Linked DNA regions of Homo sapiens. The protein of the gene in region 2 purifies or fractionates together with the protein of the main gene of each other region. This does not show direct contact. Each region holds a gene or a part of one and is shown on either strand. Other genes may lie near its edges.

Region 1 (3,500 bases), on a different chromosome or scaffold from region 2:
AGCTCTTTTGACAAAAACTATAATTACTCGATAGCTTCCTAGATGCTCTAACCTATTTGGCACTTGATTATATTGTCTGCTCTTGTCCTCTAATTGTTTCACGTGGGTAAGTTGAGTCTCCTTAAATAGACAGTAATTTTCTCAAAGGCAGGGACCATAGCTTTGACATTTTTTGTAGCACCTGGCGATGCTGGGCACACAGCCTCTTGACTCTACAACAGTTTGAGCAGCAAGCCTCGTGCTTGGGCATAAGGGCTCTGTAGTCATTCAGATGTGGGTCTGAATCCCAACTCAGCGACTAACTTTCTAGTTGGGCAACTGTTGGCCTGACTTTCCTTATCTGTAATATGGACCTAATAATAATAATACCTACCCCCAGTGTTGTTTCAAGGATTGGATGAGATCACCTGTGGCTCTTATGACAGCCTAGATCCAGGGCAAGAGCTCAAAGCATTTTAAGTATGATTATTACTATTCAGCTGTTGGTAAAATATACCAGGGAAGGAGTGAAGCTACATTCTAAGTGTATCATCATTTTCTTCACATTTACTAGCATTTATATTTAATACCTCTAGTGTGGTAGGTGTTAAACATTTAAATAAAAGATATTATTTTCACTCCCTATGACCCCAAGATTTCATTTTTGGTGCAAGGCTACTGAGGGGTTCCTTTACATGGACAAAGGCATACATAAAACAATGAGAAAAATATGTCTCTAGTGGGGAAAGGGAAGTGACGGCTGTATTTTGTAAACTCTATGAAAAAGGGAACTGGTCTTTCCTTTTTCTTCTCTGTTTTGTTATACTCAGTTGGTGATTCAGAGCTTTGAATGGAATAGTTTCTTAGTTCTTATCATTATATTAAGGGCATTAGAATAACATCTATGATAGGTATATTTTAAATCCTAAGCCATGAAAAATTCAAGCATTTGACATTTGTTGGGGTGTATTTGGGGGAGCAAGGGGAAAATTTGCATCACGAGAACAATCCTGGCCAGAGTTGGCTCCTAGGGTAATCACAAACACATGGATTCAAAAATGTCACCCAGAACATATAAATCACAAGCCCGGCTTACCTTCTGTTGCTTTGTTGACAGCTAAAAGAGTACTCAGTACCTTGGAGAAATTGACCCCTGAATAAAGGTCATCAGGATCAAATATCTATGAGAAAGGAAAATTGAAACCGTAAGACACTACAAGTATTCAACTCAACAAACAAAACTATCAAAAGGCCACTTCCTCCAGCTCTCCGGAAAAAAAAAAAAAAAAAAAAAGTGTAGAAGCCAAGACACAAACCTCCATATACCTTTGGGAGAAATGAGAGCAGCAGTTGAGCCGCCTAATGACATGTGGCAGGCCATCAGTGAGTCAGAGCAAAGCAGTAATGGGAAATGAGAGCCAAGCTGAGAAGGCAGCGCCCACCAGGAAATAAACAGTGCATACTCAGACCCACTCTTCTGGCCTGAATGTATCAATAGTTTCAGCCCAGTTACAGGAAGCTCATATGCATGGGTTACAATCAATGCCCATCACCTACATAATGTCCTCGACAGTCCATAAATAAGGAGGTGGAGCCTTTTTGACATGGTTGCATCTGTACAGTTTATTAGCTGTGCCTAGTTGAGTCACTGTCAAAAGTGCCTTTTTCTCTGCTCTCCTTCCTCCCAACTGCCACCCGCTGCATCCCAACTGCCTAGGATCCCAATTCCATGTTGCCCAAACTTTCTGCCCAGGTCTGCCTTTTGCTCCCAGCTTCAGTTCTGTTTCTGCTGTTTGACCTTGCCCCTCTCAGCTCATCATGAATTCAAGTATTTGCCTGCCTGGGCCTATGGGCTCTTCCTGGCTTTAGATGACTTTCCCAAATATGACCTCTGGCCTGTCTAATACTACTCAACTCTTGGCAAAAAACACATTAAGGAAATACATTTCACTTTACCAGTCAACTGTCAATCTGATATGCTATTGTCCCCAGTGAAGATACCAATCAGATGTTGTTTTCAATACAATTTACCTGTTACCTTTGAAATGTAGTCAGTGTGTTAAAATATATTGAGTCTCAAATATGTATATTTGAAATTAGAAGTGTTCTCATGCACAGGTACAATCTATTAATTTGCCAGCCAACAATGTAAGTATGCATATCTGAAGGTAACCAGATGCCCACCTTCTGGATGGAAATGCCCCTTCTAAAAACATTTTGTTCCAGGATGTCTAGAAGTCTCTTAAAGAAAACAGATTGCATCATTTTTTCCCCAAATGTGGTGATGGAAATAAAATGTACCTTTTCATATGGGACATGATTGGTAATGGGCATAGGATTTTAAAGGGTCTGTCTTCCCATTAGGTAGAGCCATTTGTTCCATTTTTAAGCTGCATATTTTCTGGGAACCATATCAAGACAAATTTCTATCTTTTTTGTACATGTTCTTGAAAACCTATAATCTGTTTTTAGAGTGAAAATATATAATATCAATTTTTCACGTTTTGGGGGGTCAATAAAGATACATGCAAATGCAAACCTACACAAGTCTGCCTATTCTAGGATTCACTGCTTTATTCATTTAATCAATGAATATTTTGCATTCAAAGTTAAAATGACCAAAAAGCCCAGATGCATCTAAAAATGAGACATTAATATATTTCTGGTAAAAGAGTAATGCTAATATTACTAAAGAGTTAAACAACAACACATTCCAAATATATTTCTGAATGCTACAATATAAAATTCAAACTTTTCCAGAAATACATTGACAAGAGTTTTGTTTTAGTTTGTCAAAGCCTGGGTGAACAAGAGGCAATAGACTAGAGAGAGTGTCTAGTATCTCCGGGGATTTCAGACTTATTGAGTCTCCCTTAGAACTGATCAACTGGGAAAATGTTAATGACATGTATGCCAAAATAGTAGCAAAGCAAAAAAAATCACTTGTTTTTAGCCCATCAGTCCTAATGGGAGTGTGCATGTGTGTGTGCATGTGGATACATGTTTTGGGTGGGTGTGGTAGAGATGAGTAGATCTAAAATAATAAGCAGAAGTTAAATATTAGCAGAATAAGGCATGAGAGCAAAAGTTGTGATAAAAAACCTCTCCCTCTGGTTTTAGTTGTTCCTTATCCAGGGTTATTAAATGCCTATACATGGCAACACTGGTATTATTCACTTGTACAAGTACTTGACTGATTTTGAAAATAAATAAACTAATCAGAAAATGAAATGTGCATCAAGAAGAGTCATTGCATCTGCTTGAGGGAAGTTTCCTGAACTGTACTCGGTTCTCTTTTGAGAAAACCCCAATATACTCAAGTTTATCCATGGACACTGTTCTTGCTGCAAGCCTATTCTGAGGCACTAGAAACTACAGAGGAAGGAGTTGGAAGAAGCCTCTGGGAACTGCTAGAGAAAGCAACGCCTAAGCATTATTATTTCAGAGTAGCTGGAGAATCAGATACAACCACAAACACCCTTCACCACACTATACCTTCTAAGTCCTAAATTGAATGATAT
Region 2 (2,646 bases):
CTGCAATCTCTGCCTCCTGGGTTCAAGTGATTCTCCCACCTCAGCCTCCTGAGTAGCTGGGACTACAGGCATGCGCCACCACGCCTGGATAATTTTTGTATTTTTAGTAGAGACAGGGTTTCACCATGTTGGCCAGGATGGTCTCAATGTCTTGACCACGTGATCCGCCCGCCTCGGACTCCCAGAGTGCTGGGATTACAGGCGTCAGCCACCGTGCTGGCATCTCTTACACCTTTAATATACTGCAGTGGTCACATTCCCTGCATGCCACCCGTGGGACATACTTCACTGCCTCATTCCCTACAGGATGGCCTTGATGTGGTGAAAGGTGGTGGCTGGTTCTCGTTACAGGGCTGGCCTGGTCCCTCAATGACTAATTTTCTTTCTTTTCTTCTTTTATTATTATTATTATTATTATTATTATTATTATTATTATTATTATTATTATTTTGAGATGGAGTCTTGCTCTGTCCCCAGGCTGGAGTGCAGTGGTGTGATCTCGGCTCACTGCAACCTCTACCTCCTGAGTTCAAGCGATTCTCCTGCCTCAGCCTCCCTAGTAGCTGGGATTACAGGCATGCGCCACCACACCCAGCTAATTTTTGTATTTTCAGTAGAGACAAGGTTTCACCATGTTGGCCAGGCTGGTCTCAAACTCCTGACCTCAGGTGATCCTCCTGCCTTGGCTTCCCAAAGTGATGGGATTACAGGTGTGAGCCACCACACCTGTCCAATGATTTGTTTTCTTTCCCTCCCCCAGGAAAGCTCCGTGGCTTCCTCCGTGTTGGAGACCTGGTGATTGTGGTGACAGGCTGGCGACCTGGCTCCGGCTACACCAACATCATGCGGGTGCTAAGCATATCCTGAGACGCCCCTCCCTCCTCTGGCCCAGCCTACCCTTGTACCCCATCCCTTCCTCCCCAGTCTACGTTCTCCAGCCCACACCCCTCCAAAGCCCCACCTTTAAGTCCTCTCTTCTCTATTCCTGACCCTCCCTACCTGAGGCCTATCTGAGACTATAACTGTCATCTAGCCCCTTCGAGGTTGCCCCTTCCCCATCTCCATTTCACACAGGTCCTGAAAGTCTGTGTCCAATTATGCACTGGCCACCCAACAGCACCAATTGTACATTCCCTGCATCCAATCTGCTCAGCAGGCCCTAAGATGCCTTGAGTCTTTAATCCCAGTTTGGCTGGTTAATTCCATAACCCCAGGCATCCCATCCCTTGGGGTGGGGGAGAGGGGAGACAGGGCAATCTTGTCCACAGTCTCCCATTCTCATATGTAGCCCTCATGATAATCTGGGCATCTCGTGCCAGGGCAGGCTACCCCTTCATGGTGACTAACAGTTACATGAAAGTCCACGCTTTTGGGAAAACTGGGTGGGATGGATGCTGGGGAGAAGTGAGGGCTGGGCAGCTGATTTTGTCACTGTCTTCACAACCTCCGTGCTGGGCTTGTAGACCACTGTCCTGGCTGCTCTCATGCCTGCCTGATACCCTGCTTGGTCAAATCCCCGGCTGCTTCCTTCTGCACCCAGAAATTCCTTCCCACTCATGTTGTTCCCACACACAAACCAAGAGCCAAAAATGAGTGTGTCTATTTTATATTTAAACCCAGCTGTTTGGAAGCAATTATAAAACTTCTCCCACACACCAAGAACCCCAGAACTCCCCACCCAGAAGGAAAGGAGACTTAGGGTCCTGGTCCCACAGTCTTTAATGCTGTAGAGTAGGAGAGGGGACAGGCAGAGTGAGGGTGGTAAAGGACTACTCTTGTCCCTGAGAAGGCAGAGGTGCTGGCTGGCCTGCCCTTCCCCAGGCTTGGATACCTTGGGCCTTTCCCTTATTCCTGCACCAACAGCAAACTCAGAAGGAAAAAACAAAACAAAACTCTAAAGGTAAACGCGGTCCTTCTCCCTCTCTCATGTGGCTCCTCCTGCCCCTACCTGGGAGAAGGTTCAAGTATTGCGCTGATGGGTTTGGGCAAGGACCACAGAGGCTGGCATGGAGAGGCCCTGCCTCCTCCTACTCCTCCTGTCTCCTTACCTGAAAAGGAGGGGAGGGATGGATAAAGGAATGGGTAAACAAAATTAATTGGTAACACATAAAGTTAGTAAATGAATAAATACAATTAAATAAATGAATAAATAAACAAGCGAAGAAAAAAATATCACACAAGGATTCAGCCATTTGCCCCTCCACCGGGGGGGATCTAGGCTGGCATATTAATAAGGAGGTGCCAACTACCCCTTAACTTTTAGGGGGTCACGACTGGGGCAGAGGGTACAGGGAAGAGGAAGCTCGCAGTTTACAAAAAGATGGTCTACCACAGGACAGAGACTGCAGGGAACTTAGAAGTATGTTCCCACTCAGAGGGTAGACACAGAGTGTCCACAGGTGGCAGTGAGCGGGTAAAAGTGGATACCCACACTCAGGACCCAAGACATCTGCTGACAGCAATGGGGGCACAGGTGACTGGCAGTGCCTGGCTATGCTACAGGAACAGGAAGATAACCAGACCGGGCAGAACCTGCAGGATCATTGGCAGGGAAACAGAGACATCTAGTTACTTGGCAGTGATGGCAGTGGCAAGTACTTGTGCTTAGTAAAGGTGGGGTCATGGGCCTGGGCCTGCACCTGGCAG

Evidence for each region.
Region 1: the proteins of PKLR (region 2) and ARHGEF6 purify together in Homo sapiens (affinity purification with western blotting, with the first as the bait; one study listed by BioGRID). This does not show direct contact.

The regions. Positions count from the first base shown.
Region 1 is NC_000023.11:136,746,433-136,749,932, forward strand, and holds part of ARHGEF6 (rho guanine nucleotide exchange factor 6), read right to left. Parts: intron 1,161-3,500; coding exon 1,076-1,160; intron 1-1,075. UniProt on the Homo sapiens protein: Acts as a RAC1 guanine nucleotide exchange factor (GEF).
Region 2 is NC_000001.11:155,288,793-155,291,438, reverse strand, and holds the end of PKLR (pyruvate kinase PKLR), read left to right. Parts: intron 1-760; coding exon 761-867; 3' UTR 868-2,146; downstream 2,147-2,646. UniProt on the Homo sapiens protein: Pyruvate kinase that catalyzes the conversion of phosphoenolpyruvate to pyruvate with the synthesis of ATP, and which plays a key role in glycolysis.